Homo sapiens: one gene and its partner. The protein of the gene in region 1 interacts with the protein of each later gene in a pairwise test. Each region holds a gene or a part of one and is shown on either strand. Other genes may lie near its edges.

Region 1 (9,495 bases):
TTATAATAAAATAGAGTAAGAAGGGACCATTATTTGTACTTACTCTCTACCCACTGCAAAGTAATGAATAGAATTACCATTTAAAACTGCGGACTCTCAAGTTACCAACTCTGGAAAGGTCATTCATACAAGATTGAAATACAATACCATATTTCATACAACACAAAAAATCGGAAAAGAAGTGAATCAAGATCGAATATAGTGGGATATCAAGTATAGTGGGATAGCAAATATTTATTTGAAGAACTTTTAGGATAAAATTTAGCTTACCTCTGATAAAGCTGAAGAAAAATGATTGCAGTTTTTATGCATTAAATGATAAGCATTGCCTTTGTATTCTTTTCCCAGTTCTTCTACAATTTTTTCTATATCATCTTCTAGGAAGTCCGTGCTCCCTAAAACAACAGCTTCTCTTAAAGAACAAAAAGAAAAAAAAGAGAAAGAAAAATAAGGACATAGTTGTGTCAAATATTTATAAAAAGCATGTTTAAATACTTGCTTATTTCCAGGAATATTATGATCGACATAACAAATCAGGGTTAATATAACAAGACTAAAAGTGAAACAAGATACTTTAAAAGTCCTATTTTAGTTTCTACTTTTCTGCAATAAACTCTTAAGTATATTACCTATGAATACTACAAAAGCACAAGTCATTTTCTTTATGAAATATATGTCCTTATGTAACATGTAATATTACAGTTATTTTCACAACTATTGTATTAGCAGTTATATTATTAGGGAACCAGATCCATGCTGCAAATATTCCTGCGTAATTTCACTTGCCATTTAAGGGCTGGCCATAATGTCACCTAGAAACAAACTTTTAAGTTATCTGTCACTGTGCTGCAATGAGACAAACTGTCAAATCTGACTAAACGTTTTTTAAAAAGAAGGACCCTGGCCGGGTATGGCGGCTCACGCCTGTAATCCCAGCACTTTGGGAGGCCGAGGTGGGCAGATCACCTGAGGTCAGGAGTTCGAGACCAGCCTGGCCAACACGGTGAAACCCCCGTCTCTAAAACAATACAAAAATTAGTCGGGCATGATGGCAGGTGCCTGTAATCCCAGCTACTTGGGAGGCTGAGGCGGAAGAATCGCTTGAACGCAGGAGGCAGAGGTTGCAGTGAGCCGAGATCGTACCACTGTACTCCAGCCAGGGTGACAGAGCAAGACTCCATCTCTAAACAAACAAAAATTAAAAGGACTCCAAACTACTACCTTGGAAAGGCGACAGACATTATCCAAGAGAAAGTGGAATTTTAGTCAGATAAAAGGCATCCAAGGAACCTGAAAATACTTAGAAAATCCTTTTATCAAGTAGTCTTGCCAAAAGAGAGCCCGAAGGAGTGGATTCAGGATGGTATCATAGCACTTACGTGCGAAAATCTTTCAATTCAGTGATAGGCTAAGAGAACTATGAACTTAGTAGAGGGCTTAATGTGTAGCTCTCTACTGAAGTTTAATGTTGGAACCTCATTTCACTGTCTCTTTTTCACTTGGCAAGCCATCTATTATAGGCCCAGAAGTTTAAAGCTCCTTGAAACTCACATTCTAAATATCACTTTTTTTTTTTTTTTTTGGTGAGACGGAGATTTACTCTTGTTGCCCAGGCTGGAGTGCAATGGCGCGACCTCAGCTCACCGCATCCTCTGCCTCCCAGGTTCAAGCAATTCTCCTGCCTCAGCCTCCCGAGTAGCTGGGATTACAGGCATGTACCACCATGCCTGGCTAATTTTATATTTTTAGTAGAGACGGGGTTTCACCGTGTTGCCCAGGCTGATCTCGAACTCCTGACCTCAGGTGATCCGCCTGCCTTGGCCTCCCAAAGTGCTGGGATTACAGGCATGAGCCACTGCACCCGGCCCTAAATATCACTTTAAATACAAACCTCAATTAAGGAATGAAAATTTTATTATTAACATTTATATTCTCATTCTCAGCAAACTATCACAAGGACAGAAAACCAAACACCGTATGTTCTCACTCATAGGTGGGAACTGAACGATGAGAACACTTGGACACAGGGCGGGGAACATCACACACCAGGGCCTGTCGCGGGGTGGGAGCCTGGGGGAGGGATAGCATTAGGAGAAATACCTAATGTAAATGATGAGATCATGGGTGCTGCAAACCAACATGACACATGGATACCTATGTAACAAACCTGCACGTTGTGCACATGTACCCTAGAACTTAAAGTATAAATAAAAAAAATTATATTCTCACTGCTTTTTATTACTCGTAAGACTCCAGTGAACACTTACATCCATATATTTTAGGTTTATCATTACATGTAATACATGTACCTTAACAATGGATTCTACGCTAATCAACTGTTTAATTATTTCAAACGTGTAAAGTGTCCCTTTCATTGGGACAATAAAGACATTTTTAATTTGCTAGGTAGGTCACAATAAAACTTTTTCTCCTTTCAAACAGGAGATTGAGGGGAAGAAATCATTAGAAAGGAGTTTCCTGGGCTGGGCGTGGTGGCTCACGCCTGTAATCCCAGCACTTTGGGAGGCCGAGGCAGGTGGATCACCTGAGGTCAGGAGTTCAAGACTAGCCTGGCCAACATGGCGAAACTCCATCTCTACTAAAAATACAAAAATTAGCCGGACGTCGTGGTGCACGCCTGTAATCCCAGCTACTTGGGAGCCTGAGGCAGGAGAATCGCTTGAACCTAGAAGGCGGACGCTGCAGTGAGCTGAGATCACGCCACTTCTCTCCAGCCTGGGAGACAGAGTGAGACTCCATCTCAAAAAAAAAAGGAAAAGAAATGAGTTTCCTGAGGCAAACTTGAGTTATATAAAATGTCAGCAATTAAAACAAAGAGACATTTTTAACTTCTTGGGTTTGTTTTGATTTACAGAATGAATTCTGTATACCTGAAAACAAGCTATGGCACCTAAGACAGTGTAATAAAAATTATCCTCCCTACTTACTTAAATTTAAATGTTTCTCCTAGTTCAGAAGCATTTCCTGGGGAAATTTCAAATATTCCAGAAAAGGGGTAAGGATGGCCACCATAAGCAAATTCTGAAAAGAGAAAACTCATGATTTTTAGTATGTATCACATAAAATTTAACCAGAATGCTGAATTAGCTTTAATAATTGAGGATAACAGTGACACCATCTAAATATTTTTCAGTTTATAAAATGCTTTCACAAATATCTCACTTAGCTATTACTCGTATAAACAGTTGTCACAAAAGACCCGAAACTCAAATAACAGAAGACACTCAAAGATATTCTTGCCTGCCATATTTCCCTTTCTTATCATGGCAGGAAGAGAGTGATCAACACACAGAGGTATATACAGTTCTCTCTGCCTGTCTATATCATGCCAGTCTAGGCAGGTGGTCAGTTCAGTGTTTTGCCACTTTCTAAGTTAAAGTGATCCAATTTCAAACACATATCTTACTGGAGAAACTGTCTAGTAACAGTGAGTTTCATGGTTTCTGGGATAAAGACTATTGGTTTATCTTTGAGTAGGGTGGAACATTACCAAACCTAAAACACTACTCAATTCTCTTCATGTAAGAAAAAAATAAACTGCCAAATTAACACACATACCCATCCACCCTCCCATCCAATCACCACAGCAAGTCTTTTAGCTAGGATAAACTATTTTTTGACTGTACATCCAATACAAAATGTACATCAGATACAAACTCTGGAGAACAAAATGGAGAATAATTTTAGATAAAAAATTCCTGTAATTTTCTGTTATTTCACTTAGATATTTCAGTGGCTAAGTCTTAGTAGACAAATTTAAAGAATTCCAAACCATGCTTAAATCAACTTCATCACTTTAAAAATATACCTTAAAAGGTCTTAGAACAAAGCACAGGAAAGAACAGGCAGATACTAAATTTACTTTTAATTCAGACCTGTTCAAAAAAAGCAATGATGTAGTTTGAGAAATAAAGTGGCTATTTTGAAACATAATTTTTAAAGTTTTTTAGTGACAAAATTTTACAAAATATTGTAGATTATCAGGTTGGAAGGGATAAGATTATATTTGGATTCTTAACTTTCTCAATTATAGTACGGAAAGTCACAGACCCATTCTTTTATTTAAAAAGCAATCACTAATTTTCAGGAATATATTAATATTTGATTCTAGCTTTACTAAATTTACATGAACATGTTTTGAAACATGTTTCTAATTATTACTAAATAATTTTATGAAGGGGAGCAATGATTAGGGAGATAATAGAGCCACGGACTAGCATACAAGAACATTTGGGTTCAAGTTTGAGTTAATTATTAGCATGATGACTTCCAGCAGGTTTGGGCCTCAGTTTCTTCAGCTGAAAAATGGAGAAGATGGCACCTGCCCTTACCTAACCCACCATGATCATGTGGTTCAAAACTTGATGGCATTTTAAGAACAGTAACACATCACACAAATTCAAGAAATACACATGCAAATTTGGCAAAAGCCAAATCAGCCAAAAGAGTAACCCCACAGACTATGATCCCACCCACAGCAATACTCCCAAGCATGAAACTTCCAGCAAGAGCCCCTCAGTATTTCCTGGGATTATTTGGTAGATGCAGACTTTCAAGTAAAATAGAGCTTAAATGGCAGATTTTTATAGCCAACATTTAATATGCTAAACTTCACCTGGAAGCAGGTAAAATGGAATATAAAAAAGAGTATAACCACCATACTGACACATTTAAGTAAATGAGTCTTTTCTTTGTATTGGTTAAAACTGGTGTATAGTGTTCAGGGGTAACCCTCAGTAAACTGCAATAATATATTCTTAAGAGGTCACAAAGACTGCCTAGCTGAAGCGAACAAAGGCATTTCTGCTATAGGGTTAGTTTATAATTCAAAATGATACATTGAATGAAATCAGCAATGTGATCTGTCTTACGCAGACCATTACTATTAGTTACAACTTGATCAGGGGTAGATTATCTTGCATCAAGAGTAGGAATTAGCACAGTGGAAAAAAACTGTTGAAAACACAGCTGCTTGGTTTGAGTGACTCCTGACATGTTTATCCTAATAAAGGGTTTTAATAAGGAGAATGAAAAGGGCTGAGTTAATGACAAAGGGCATGATTAGATGTAATCATGGCAGGATTTGCTCAGCAATGTTTTTAGACTTCAAAAACTTATAGATTTTATAAGACGTATAGGTCTACAAACCAAATTTATTACTGAAATTCCCTCAGGAAATTGGTATTTCAAGTCTGACACTTTCTAGCACCAACCTTTCCGACCAAAATTATTGTTTTTATCATGCTATTTTCGAAATGCAAGGTTTCTTAGGAGCTCCAATATATATGAGAACAAAACAAACTGTCATTTTATGACAATCACAAAAGGAAAATATTTTTTAAAACATAGTATTTAGAATAAAAGATAAAGTGAATGAAGCAAATGTATATTCTTGTATTTTGAGTACTTTCTCCCCAAATACATTCTACTTTGGGCATTTTTCCAAAACGCAGTATAAATGAATATGGGGAGATTTTCTTCTACTTTCTGTAATAACATATGCAAGTGGTTAAAAAAAGAGAGACCTATAGTTATGATTTTGCAACTCTTTTAAAGTACAAAATCTTCAGAGAGTATATTTAGACTGTGTGTACACGTACCTCTGCCATAGACTTCAATTCCTGAATGAAAAACTCCAATTCCAATGGATGAGGTATATTCGTTCATCCAATACTGAGAAAAAAAGAAAGAAAAGATTCAGAATACCTGTTCATTTACAACCCAACTCCGCGCTACAGAAGTGACTGCTCCCCAGTCTTTCACTCTGAAACTCCCATGATAACGATCCAGTGGTCCTGTCTCTGTGGCTCTGTGCCTTTGCCTGTACCACATCTGGAATGCCTTCCTGGGTCAAAATAATTGTCGCGATTTGAGTATAAGCACATTATCTAAGGCTTCTAGGGGAAGCAATACAATTAAAAGCTTGATCAGTTTGTGGGGCGGTGGGGGGAGAGATTATATAAGAGCTCTGCTGTTAGTGACTTACACACACACACACACACATACACACACACACACAGAGTGTGCTTTCATATCTATTTTTCTCCTATCCTAAGCTTTTCTTCTTATTCTTTGGTGAGCTCCCTGAAAGCAGAAATATTTTATTCTTTTTCAACAAACATTTACGGCATGTATCATGTGTCCTGATTCAGCTCAAAGTTTGATAATGGTAATAATATAAGAATAAACAATGCACAAAGGTTAGAACAACATTCTTACTTCTTACCATTAGCATGAATAAAAACCTCCCAGAAAAGTAATATCTGAACTGAGTCTTTAGGAACAAATCAGATTTCCCAGTAAGAAAACTGGGCCATGGGGCCCATGGGGATGGACAGAAATGCCAGGAAGAGGGAAGAGGATGTACATAGGTTATATGATAAGAAATTACAGGAAATGACTGTGAAAGGGGTTAAAAAGGTGAAGTGGAGGGGGTTAAACTGAGAAAAAGGTAAATGAGTTAAGAGCTCACTAAACAAAACACTTAGGTAACACTCAAAAGTGTTACAAACCTATTGGATGTCTCCCAGGTTAGGGGACAGATAATTTATCTTTAATTGTTCTAGGTTTATTCAAGTCTTAACCTTGGCTCCAGACCCCTAGCCAGTCTTTCTCAGACCTACACACATTCTCACGCATTGCTGGAAGAAGCATAAATGAACAAGTCAGTTGTGTTTTTTTCTAAAATGTACCTGGGGCCGAGCGTGGATAAAAATAAAATAAAACGTACCTGGAAGAAGAATTAAGCAATCATAAATAAATATATGAAAACAAGGAATTTTCCCATCTAGAAATTGAAATATTCATTAAAACAATATGGCATTGTTGCAGGAACAGATCCTGGTACAGACCCTTGTATATATAAGAATTTGATATATGATAAAGGAGATATTTAAAATTAATGACAAAGTATGACTTACTAAAAGCATGTTGACAAAATTGATTATGCATAAATTTCATGTATAAAAATTCTAGTGTGTCTAAAAATAACTATATATGGATAGAAGGGAATAGAGTTTTAAAAATTTTAGGTGGGAAAAGACAACCTAAGTAAAGTAAAATCCTAGAATTTACAGAGGAAAATATCAACAGATATTCTACATAAAAATGTACAACTTTTTATTTTATAAAACTACATAAAAACAAGATAAAAAGATAAATAATATGCAAAAAGAGAGAATCTGTGTGGATATAACAAAGATTCATATGAGAATATAAGTATCCCTCTTGATCGGAATTTTTTGAGTTCCTGATTTTGGAGAGCCAGAATTTGGATGGCAAGTTAGGAAACGAAGGCTACATTTTTTTATGTGAATCAATTTGATTTTGGAAGGAGAGTAGTAAGATTACATACAGTAAGGATTCTTCAAAACATTTACCCAAATCTATTTAATCCCAGAGTTTGGGCAGCAAAAGTTCAGATATGAGTATACTTGTGAAAATCAATGAAAGTGACTTAACCATTTCACCTTCTGGAATCTATTCTATAGAAATACTAGTACATATGCAAAGCCATGTCCCAGGATATTAACTGTAGTTGTCTACAAGTACTGAAAAACTGAAGTCTAAATATCAATAGAGAAATGGCTAATTATGGTACATTCATATTATAAACTATCAATCAAAAAAAGAATAAGGTTGACTTGGGAAAATTAGCTGAGATTTTTTTTTTAAAAAAGAAAAAAGAATGAGGTAACTCGATAGATATTTAAAAACCACATAAAATAAAAAGATCAAGTCATAATATGTGTAGCATGATCACATTTTTGAAAAATAAGTTAGCCTGAGGATATACTTACATGTTAAGTATGGGATGACAAAATCAAACTACCACCAATTGCAACAAAAGAAAGGTCTGAAGCACCTGTGTTCAACTGTTAACAATTTGGCCGAGAGGAGTACACGTGGCTAGGGTGGGAGTGGAGGACTAAAATGCAATACTTTCAGTTTTAGCTCCATACATTCAGGATTGTTTGTTCTTCTAAATTTGATAAAGAGTATTACTTTTATAGTTAAAAATGTTATTTTAAAGTAAAATGCTATTATCTTAGTTTAACAGGTTTTTATTTATTTGAATCTTTATACTATAGTAAAAGAATAGGTTGCACATATAAAAAACCATAAGCATAAGACTATTAACTGCAGTATTATTTATGTTAGTAAAATGTTGACAACAGCCTAAATGTTCATTTATAGGGTCCTAGTTACATAAACTATGATATATCTATATAATGGAATACTCTTTAGCCATAAAAAGAGGGGAAGGGCTCAGTGTGGTGGCTCACACCTGTAATTCCAGTACTTTGGGAGGTTGAGGCGGGAGGACAGCTTGAGGCCAGGAGTTCAAGACCCCCCTAGGCAACACAGGGAGACCCAATCTCTTAAAAAAAAAAAAAAATTAGCCAGGTACCCGTGGTCCTAGCTACTTGGGAGGCTGAGGTGGGAGAACTGAGCCCGGGAGTTTGAGGTTGCAGTGAGCTATGATCACACCACTGCACTCCAGCCAGGGCAACAAAGTGAGACCCTGTCTCTAAAAAAAAATTCAAAAAGTGTTGGGGCAGGTGTGATGCTCTTAAGGAACTAAGAGGAAGAGGAAGTAATTTCCAGGATATATTTGTTAGGGAAACAAAAGCAAGTTGCAAAGTAATATATGGCAAAAGGCTGGGCGCGGTGGCTCACGCCTGTAATCCCAGCACTTTGGGAGGCTGAGGTGGGCGGATCACAAGGTCAGGAGATCAAGACCACCCTGGCTAACATGGTGAAACCCTGTCTCTACTGAAAATACAAAAAATTAGCCGGGTGTGATGGCGGGCACTTGTAGTCCCAGCTACTCAGGAGGCTGAGGCAGGAGAATGGCATGAACCTGGGAGGCGGAGCTTGCAGTGAGCCGAGATCACGCCACTGCACTCCAGCCTGGGCGACAGAGCGAGACTCTGTCTCAAAAAAAGAAAAAAGTAATAATATATGGCAAAGACTTAGACTCCTGAACCTTCTCCTAGGCCCATGTGTACACGTACTTGTAAAATCAGGTTTTAGCAAAGAATCTTGCTAATTCAGTTCAGCAAGAACCCCCAACCCTTGCTATCTGATCACCTCCATATCTGGTCAGGTTCCTCATCCTCCACCATCCCCCTGGTGATGCCAGATCTTCACTAGGAAATGTGTTAGGTTGGTTTAGCCAGAACCCCCCTGGATCCCTAATGTTTCCTCTTAGAAATTTTCCATCCACTGACCCTCCACCCTGCTCCCTGGCTGCAAATTCCCATTTGCCCATGCTGTGTTTGGAGTTGAACACAGTTTCTCTACTCCACTGCAAAATCCCATTGCCATGGCCCCTCTACCTATCACAATGGTCTTGAAAAGAGTTTGCCTTACTGTGCTTTAACAAATATCACTGAGTTTTTTTTTTTTTTTTGACAACACACTATATACATGCTTTTGTATGAGAATGTCTGTATCTACATCTTACAGCCA
Region 2 (9,495 bases), on another chromosome or scaffold:
TAGAGACAGGGTTTTGCCATGTTGGCCAGGCTGGTCAGGAACTCCTGACCCCAGGTGATCCGCCCGCCTCGGCCTCCCAAAGTGCTAGGACTACAGGTGTGAGCCACCATGCCTGGCCATGAATGAGTTTTAGAAATGGATAGTGGTGATGGTTGTATAATGTTGTAAATGGACTTAATGCCACTGAATTGCACAGTTAAAAATGGTTGAAATGGTGAAATTTGTTATGTATATTTTACCGAAATAAAGAATAGAAATGTCATACTCCATGAGAAATCTCATACTCTCATACTTAGTAGTCACTCCCCATTTCCTAACAACCACCCTGAGGCAGCTACTCATCTACTTTGTCTTTATAGATTTGCCTATGCTGGATATTTCTTATAAATGAAATCATAAAATGTGTGGGTTTTTTTGTGATTGGCTTCTTTCGTTAAGCATAATGTTTTCAAAGTTAATCTGTCTTGTCACATCATATCAGTACTTCATCTCTTTTTATTGTTGAATAGTAATTTACTGTCTAGACAGACAATATTTATTCATTCTTCAACTGATGGATGTTTGGGTTCGTTCTACTTTTGGAGATTATGTATAATGCTTCTGTGAACATTTGTATACAAGTTTTTGTGTGGACATGTTTTCAGGTTTTTTTGGTATATACCCAGGAGTGGAATTGCTGGGTTATATAATAACTGTTTAAGCTTTTGAGGAGCTGCCAGACTGTTTTCCAAATCAGCTGTACCATTTTACATTCCCACCAACACTGTATGGAGGCTCCAATTTCTCCACAACATGAACTGCTTTTGAATAAAGATTTAAATCATTCTTTCAAATGGTTAAGCCAGGGACTTTTAGGATTATAAGGAGCCTTTAGAGACCAGCCATTCCAACTCTGCTACTTCCTAAATGAATTTGGTACTAGTACTTGGTTTGGTATTCTTAGTGGGAAGCTCACACTAAAATCTCCCTTGTTAGGGAGATCCAGGGTGGTCTTGGCATACTCTTTCCTCCTGAGGACCCCAAATACACTGACCTGTGCTGAAGTAAGCGTAGGTAGGGATTAAACTAGCATGGGAATGCCGATTTTGAGAGAGTTTCCAGATACCTTATTCTCTGAATGACAGTTCAGGGAAAGCCCGGCTACTCTTGGCATTAACATTAGGGGCCAGTTGATAAGGAAGAAGCTTCAGAGCCAGCTTCCTGTTTGGCCTGTCACTGCCTCTGCCTGCTCCTCCCTCACACCCCCATATTTCCTTACCTTTAGAAGAGAGTTGCCAGCAACTTGCCAGGCCTCTTCCTGTCAGAACTAGATAAACCAGGCAATGCCTTCTGTTGTATAAGATCAACATTCTTGCCTTTTTTTTTTTTTTTGAGATGGAGTCTTGCTCTGTCACCCAGGCTGGAGTGCAATGATGCATCTTGGCTCACTGGAACCCCTGCTTCCTGAGTTCAAGCGATTCTCCTGCCTCAGCCTCCTGAGTAGCTGGGACTACAGGCGCACACCATCACGCCCAGCTAATTTTTGTATTTTTAGTAGAGACGGGGTTTCACCATGTTGGCCAGGATGGTCTCGATCTCTTGACCTCGTGATCCGCCTGCCTCAGCCTCCCAAAGTGCTGGGATTACAGGCGTGAGCCACCGTGCCCAGCCCATTATTGCCATTTTTTATAAGGCCTATGGTAATGTGTGTTCATTCTATACCTATAGTACTACATTAACATTTTCCCATTTGTGATTCTAGTTGCAGTTGCCAATACCTATGCCTGTAAGGGGCTAGACAGGATTGAGGAGAGACTGCCTATTCTGAATCAGCCATCAACTCAGGTGAGCTTGGGACAAAAGTGCTGAGACTTGACACTTCACATGTTTTCATCTTCTATCTGTTAAAACAAGCTGTACATATCACAAACAGGCAAATACTTGTTTTCCCAACCTGGATCTGGATGTATGTTTGAAAAATAATGGCCACTTCCTTACTTCCTGAACTGTTGTCAAGTTGTATCTACGAAGCAGAGAAGAACTAGCCTCCTTTGGATTAGAAAACTTTTAGTGTGTTGTCTATCAGTTTGTGTCTTTGCTCCTATAAATGAAATTGCTGTCTCAAGTAACTGATTGTCTTGTGGTATTAAATAAATGCAGACGTGATATATATAACCTTTTCTCACCTGGCTTGTACAATGCTGCCAGGAACTACCATCCATATGGGATAGCTAGCCAGTGTTGACAAAAATGATAGGCTTGTCTGTCCTGGTGATCCTTTGGTTCAGATAATGTCCTAAAATTTTGTTTCAAATTAAGAATACAGAATGGCACAAAAGGATACCAGTTAGGGAAAAATATAGCTCTGTGTCTTTTCATAATCTAAATACAGTCATCTGTCACTTAGTGATGGGAATATATTTTGAGAAATGCACATTAGGTGATTTTGCCATTGTGTGAACATCACAGAGTATACTCACACCAACCTAGATGGTAGAGCCCAGTGGTCCCCAAGCTTTATGGCACCAGGAACTGGTTCCATGGAAGACAGTTTTTCCATGGACCAGCAGGGGGTGGGTGGTGTTTTTGGGATGATTCAAGTGCACTATATTTATCATTAGATTCTCATAAGGAGCATGCACGTGCACAGTTCACAAGAGGGTTAGGGTTAGGTCTCCTATGAGAATCTAATGCCGCCTCTGACTGGTAATGGACTGGTAATGGACTGGTAATGGTCCATGGCCCGGGGGTTAGGGACTTGTGGTGTAGCCTGCTATATACCTAGGCTATATGGTGTATAGCCTGCTATATACCTAGGCTATATGGTGTATAGCCTGCTATATACCTAGGCTATATGGTGTATAGCCTGCTATATACCTAGGCTATATGGTGTATAGCCTGCTATATACCTAGGCTATATGGTATATAGCCTGTTGCTTGCTTCTAGGCTACAAACCTGCACAGCATGACTACACTGACTACTGTAACACAATGATAAGTATTCGTGTATCTAAACTAGAAAAGGTACAGTGAAAAAAAAAAGTATACCTGTTATAGGGCAGTTCATTATAATCTTATGGGACTATCATTGAATAGTGGTCCATCGCTGACCAAAATATTATGTGGTACACAACTATAGGTAGGTTTAGTGTATAGCCTTTAGAATGCTTGTGCAAATCTTTTAAATTTTTCACTTACATTGCTTGAGACTGTGCTAATGGTGAGAGTTATTTTCCATTTCGGATATTTTCTTTAAATGTTGGTAACTTGTGTTCTTTTTTTTTTTTTTTTTTTTTTTTTTGAGACAGAGTCTTGCTCTGTCACCCAGGCTGGAGTGCAGTGGCACAATCTCGGCTCACTGCTGTCTCTTCCTCCTGGGTTCAAGCAATTGTCCTGCTTCAGCCTCCCCAGTAGCTGGGTTCACAGGCACGCCCCGCCACACCCAGCTAATTTTTTTTGTCATTGTTTGTTTGTTTTTGAGACAGAGTTTTGCTCTTGTTGCCCAGGCTGTAGTGTAATGGTGCAATTTTGGCTCACTGCAACCTCCACCTCTGGGGTTCAAGTGATTCTTCTGCCTCAGTCTCCCAAGTAGCTGGGGTTACAGGCATGTGCCACCACGCCCAACTAATTTTTTGTATTTAGTAGAGACGGGGTTTCACCATGTTGGTGAGGCTGGTCTCGAACTCCTAACCTCAGGTGATCCAACCAACTCAGCTTTGCAAAGTGCTGGCATTACAGGCATGAGCCACCATGCCCTGCCATGTATAATAACTGCATACTAATAACACCCCGAGGGCCAGGTATAGTTTGATCTTCAGTTTCCTCTCTGGATTTGTGTGACTTTGGAATAAGCTATATAACTTACCTTCTTTTCTTTTCTTTTTTTTTCTTTTCTCTTCTCTTTTTTTTTTTTTTTTTTTGAGACAGGGTCTTGCTCTGTCACCCAGGCTGAGTGCAGTGGCACAATCACAGCTCACTGCAGCCTTGGCAAACAGACAAATTTCATATCTGTTTACTTCATTTGCTCCTCCTGCAATTCCCAAGGATTGGCAGGTAGGGCAGATATACTTGATAGGGAAATTCAGGCTCATCAACTCTTAGTGACTTGCCCAAGACCTAAAGCTAGAGTGAGAGGACTAGATTCCTTCTTTAACTCTTCAGCTGTGCTGCCTTAGTTAAGACCTTAGGTATGTCCTTGTGCTCATTTTTCTCACCAGCCAGGGGATCTGCTTTTCTACTTACAGATTGTTGCCAATGCCAAAGGCGCTGTGACTGGGGCAAAAGATGCTGTGACGACTACTGTGACTGGGGCCAAGGATTCTGTGGCCAGCACGATCACAGGGGTGATGGACAAGACCAAAGGGGCAGTGACTGGCAGTGTGGAGAAGACCAAGTCTGTGGTCAGTGGCAGCATTAACACAGTCTTGGGGAGTCGGATGATGCAGCTCGTGAGCAGTGGCGTAGAAAATGCACTCACCAAATCAGAGCTGTTGGTAGAACAGTACCTCCCTCTCACTGAGGAAGAACTAGGTAACTGGAATTTTATCTTGAAATACTGTTTTATATTAAATCTTTCTTAAACAGCTTCATTGACATATACTCTCATCTTGAGTCTAAATTTACACAGTTGTGCAAGCATCACTGCAATCCAGTTTCAGAACACTTCTGCTACCCCAAAAGATCCTCATGCCTGTTTGCAGTCAGTCCTTTTTAATTTAATTTAATTTTATAGAGATGGGATCTCACTATGTTGCCCAGGCTGATCTCGAACTCCTGGGCTCAAACGATCCACCTGCCTTGACCTCCCAAAGTTCTGGGATTACAGATGTGAGCAACCACTAATCTTTTTGCCTCTATAGATTTTCCTTCCTAAAGCAATCATAAAGTTCACATTGAATCGTACGTAGTAAGTTTTGAAACCTTAGCAAAAATTGGCCTTGAAAAATATTTTCTGTAAATGGATAGTCTTTAATGGATTGCTTTATAAAATCCTCCTTACAAAGAATCATCATTAGGTAATGTGTGCCAGGTACCATGCCGCTCAAGTTCACTCTAGGCTGGGAGCAATGGTGCATGCATGCCTACAATCCCAGCACTTTGGGAGGCTAAGACAGGCAGATCGCTTGAGTTCAGGAGTTTGAGATTAGCCTGGGCAACATGGCGAAACCCTAAAAAACACAAAAATTAGCTGGGCATGGTGGCTTGTTCCTAGAGTCCTAGCTACTCGGGAGGCTGAGGTGAGAGGATCAGTTGAGCTCGGGAGGTTGAGGCTGCAGTGAGCCAAAATTGTGCCACTGTACTCCAGCCTGGGCAACAAAGCAAGACCTGTTTCCAAAAAAAAAAAAGCAGTTTACTCTAGTGGGAGAAACGTGTAGATGCATGCAGTGTGTATCAGATACAGTAATATGTTCAGGGTAGTCAAGTCCAGCAGCAGACGTGAGCAGTCTTGGAAAAATGACTGCATGATTGCTAAGTGATTGGGTAGAAGTAAGAAAGTCAAGACCCAGGTTAGAGTCCAGGCCTTATCACTTGTCACTGTGATCCCTTAAGTTTTTTTGTCTCTTATTTCTAACTTCAGAAAAAGAAGCAAAAAAAGTTGAAGGATTTGATCTGGTTCAGAAGCCAAGTTATTATGTTAGACTGGGATCCCTGTCTACCAAGCTTCACTCCCGTGCCTACCAGCAGGCTCTCAGCAGGGTTAAAGAAGCTAAGCAAAAAAGCCAACAGACCATTTCTCAGCTCCATTCTACTGTTCACCTGGTGAGTAAAACTTTATTTTAAGGTGTCTGAAGTGGGTTCATTTATCTCTAGGCCCAAGAATTAAATGTAATCACAAAATCCAAGAATTTCATTCTTAGTTGACAAACAACCCAATAGAAAACTGGACAAAGAATATGGAGACAGCTCACAGAAAAAGGAAGTATAACTAGTTGAAATATAGGAAGCAATGCTAATCTCGCTCTGAGGGGTCAAATACTGACATCTCTCTTGTCCTGCCACACGGGAAATGTGGCTGTTGGCAACGGTGTAGAGAAAGAACCACACTTGTGCAGCTCTTGCTCTAAGGGACTGATTCAAGAGACAGTTTTAGTAAAGTTACAAGCATACCTACACTTGGAGCTGTTTTACTTTTTATCTTACAGATGTGTATATTTGTTTAAAGTTGCAAGAGACTATAACAATGCACATCCACTAACAGGACTAATTAAATTGATATATCACAATAGACTACTGTGTAGCCATTAAAGGTTTCCAAGTTAAAGAACAGTATGTACCATTCTGTACTGCCATGAGAAAACCATTTCTTCTTAGAAGGGGAAATAGTGGTTGGCAACAGGGAAGAGGAAGGTCAAATTCCTTTCTGTTTTGTAATGCTAACTTATCCTTTACTCATGTACACATTAAATTTTAGTTGCTGGCTGGGCGTGGTGGCTCATGCCTATAATCCCAGCACTTTAGGAGGGCAAGGTGGTTGGATCACCTGAGGTCAGGAGTTCGAGACCAGTCTGGCCAACAAGGTGAAATCCTGTCTCTACTAAAAATACAAAAATTAGCTGGGCATGGTGGCGTATGCCTGTAATCCCAGCTACTCGGTAGGCTAAGGCACGAGAAGGAGGTTCAGTGAGCTGTGATCGCGCCACTGTACTTCAGCCTGGGTGACAGAGTGACACTCAAAAAAAATTTTTTGTAGTTTTTTAGTTGCTTTACCTGTGCTAAACTGGAAGTAAATGTGGAGTCAGTGATTTAATAGTTAAATAGAGGCAGTAAAGAGCTACTACTGCTTGGTTAATTTACACATATTGATAATAAATAATAATGATAGCAGGAATAGATCTTATTCAACTCCAGGAAATTCTTAGTTTTTATGTTGCCTGATTTACATCATACATCTGCAAACAGGCTAACGTGAATATCTGACTTGTGTGTTCCTTTGTCTTGTTTCAATGTGTCTAGATTGAATTTGCCAGGAAGAATGTGTATAGTGCCAATCAGAAAATTCAGGATGCTCAGGATAAGCTCTACCTCTCATGGGTAGAGTGGAAAAGGAGCATTGGATATGATGATACTGATGAGTCCCACTGTGCTGAGGTAAGATGACTGGGACGGTCATTTGTTGGTTGCTGAAGAAGTTCTTATCAGACTTTTCATTTCAATTTTTCCATACTATGTCTTAGAATACTCTTCTCTATCAAAAGGTTGAACAATACCATGTACATAGGTGGCTAGTTATGTGGCAGAAAAGCAAAACTAGGCAGCGAATAATTTTATCTAACAACCTATGAGTATACATATGCCCCAAGTGAGATACAACTAAATGAGAAACACAGGCCTTGCCCTCATAATGGGTACAGACTAACAGGGGATACAGCCAGCCATGCTGTCCTATTTTGTGCCTTTTTAATGCTCCTTGCAGAAGAGGGCTATCTCATAGGCAGTACACTCAGAGTAGCCAAGTCCGGTTGTTGTTTAACGGCATAAATACAGGTACTATTGGCTGGGCGCGATGGCTCACGCCTGTAATCCCAACACTTTGGGAGGCCGAGGCGGGTAGATCACGAGGTCAGGAGATCGAGACCATCCTGGCCAACATGGTGAAACCCTGTCTCTACTAAAAATACAAAAAATGAGCCAGGCATGGTGGCACGTGCCTGTAGTCCCAGCTACTCGGGCAGCTGAGGCAGGAGAATAGCTTGAACCTGGGAGGCAGAGGTTGCCATGAGCCGAGATCATGCTACTGCACTCCAGCCTGGGCAACAGAGTAAGACTCTGTCTCAAAAAAAAAAAAAAGAAAACATATGGGAAGACTATCTCAGGCAGCCTTGGAGTGGGGGTAGTTGAGTCACATTGCTTTCTGGAAGAGATGAATGGTAAGCTGAGAACTAATGGGTGAATAAACTAGGTGAAAGGGCAATAAGGTGACCAAGGTTCCAGAGGGAAGGCATAGCATCTTGGCTGGGTGCAATGGCTCACACCTGTAATCTCAGCATTTTGGGAGGCCAAGGCAGGCAGATCACTTGAGCCCAGGAATTCAGGACCAGCCTGGGCAACTGTGAAACCCCATCTCTACAAAAAATACAAAAATTAGCAGGGTGTGGTGGTGTGCACCTGTAGTCCTAGTTGCTCGAGAGGCTGAGGTGGGAGGATCACCTAAGCCCGAGAGGTCGGGTCCGCAGTGAGCCATGATTGTGCCAGTGCCCTCCAGCCTGGGCAACAGACTGAGACCCTGTCTCAGAAAGAAAGAAAGAAAAGAAAAGAAAGAAAGAAGAAAGAAAGAAAAAGGAAGGGAAGCAGGGAGGAAGGAAGGGAAAAGAAATATCCTCTTATAGTCCTAGAAAGTGGTTCTTTGTGTCCCAAAAGCTCTGAAGTCAATATGAACTGTTTGTTCATGTCTTGTCATTTTATTTGAGGAGGGAATATATACATTACACTACTAACATGAAGGATATTTCCATTCTTTTGGGTCTCCCCTACCTAATATGTTTCTTCAGTTTAAGATGATGAACTTTGGAGACTCAGGCACTAGTTCGAATCCCTACCCAGCTGTTTTCCAGTTGTTAACTGAAGCCATCTACTTAAACTCTAAGCTTATATTCATATCTATGAAATGTGAATAATACTGCTGCACTCGGCATTGTAATGAGGATTTTTAAAAGCCAAAGAATCCACATATGTGGTGGACACATAACCAGCCTACTGTCATCGAACTAATTTATACATAGCACTGTTGGATCCACTGCTAATTTTAAGTTTTATTTTTAGCACATTGAGTCACGTACTCTTGCAATTGCCCGCAACCTGACTCAGCAGCTCCAGACCACGTGCCACACCCTCCTGTCCAACATCCAAGGTGTACCACAGAACATCCAAGATCAAGCCAAGCACATGGGGGTGATGGCAGGCGACATCTACTCAGTGTTCCGCAATGCTGCCTCCTTTAAAGAAGTGTCTGACAGCCTCCTCACTTCTAGCAAGGGGCAGCTGCAGAAAATGAAGGAATCTTTAGATGACGTGATGGATTATCTTGTTAACAACACGCCCCTCAACTGGCTGGTAGGTCCCTTTTATCCTCAGCTGACTGAGTCTCAGAATGCTCAGGACCAAGGTGCAGAGATGGACAAGAGCAGCCAGGAGACCCAGCGATCTGAGCATAAAACTCATTAAACCTGCCCCTATCACTAGTGCATGCTGTGGCCAGACAGATGACACCTTTTGTTATGTTGAAATTAACTTGCTAGGCAACCCTAAATTGGGAAGCAAGTAGCTAGTATAAAGGCCCTCAATTGTAGTTGTTTCCAGCTGAATTAAGAGCTTTAAAGTTTCTGGCATTAGCAGATGATTTCTGTTCACCTGGTAAGAAAAGAATGATAGGCTTGTCAGAGCCTATAGCCAGAACTCAGAAAAAATTCAAATGCACTTATGTTCTCATTCTATGGCCATTGTGTTGCCTCTGTTACTGTTTGTATTGAATAAAAACATCTTCATGTGGGCTGGGGTAGAAACTGGTGTCTGCTCTGG

What was found.
Region 2: the proteins of DESI2 (region 1) and PLIN2 interact in binary tests that used the Homo sapiens proteins (3 or more experiments, as listed by UniProt).

The regions. Positions count from the first base shown.
Region 1 is NC_000001.11:244,682,796-244,692,290, reverse strand, and holds part of DESI2 (deubiquitinase DESI2), read right to left. Parts: intron 5,695-9,495; coding exon 5,622-5,694; intron 3,043-5,621; coding exon 2,949-3,042; intron 413-2,948; coding exon 271-412; intron 1-270. UniProt on the Homo sapiens protein: Has deubiquitinating activity towards 'Lys-48'- and 'Lys-63'-linked polyubiquitin chains. Deubiquitinates 'Lys-48'-linked polyubiquitination of RPS7 leading to its stabilization.
Region 2 is NC_000009.12:19,115,894-19,125,388, reverse strand, and holds part of PLIN2 (perilipin-2), read left to right. Parts: intron 1-1,741; coding exon 1,742-1,824; intron 1,825-4,223; coding exon 4,224-4,509; intron 4,510-5,557; coding exon 5,558-5,739; intron 5,740-6,933; coding exon 6,934-7,068; intron 7,069-8,739; coding exon 8,740-9,141; 3' UTR 9,142-9,495. UniProt on the Homo sapiens protein: Structural component of lipid droplets, which is required for the formation and maintenance of lipid storage droplets.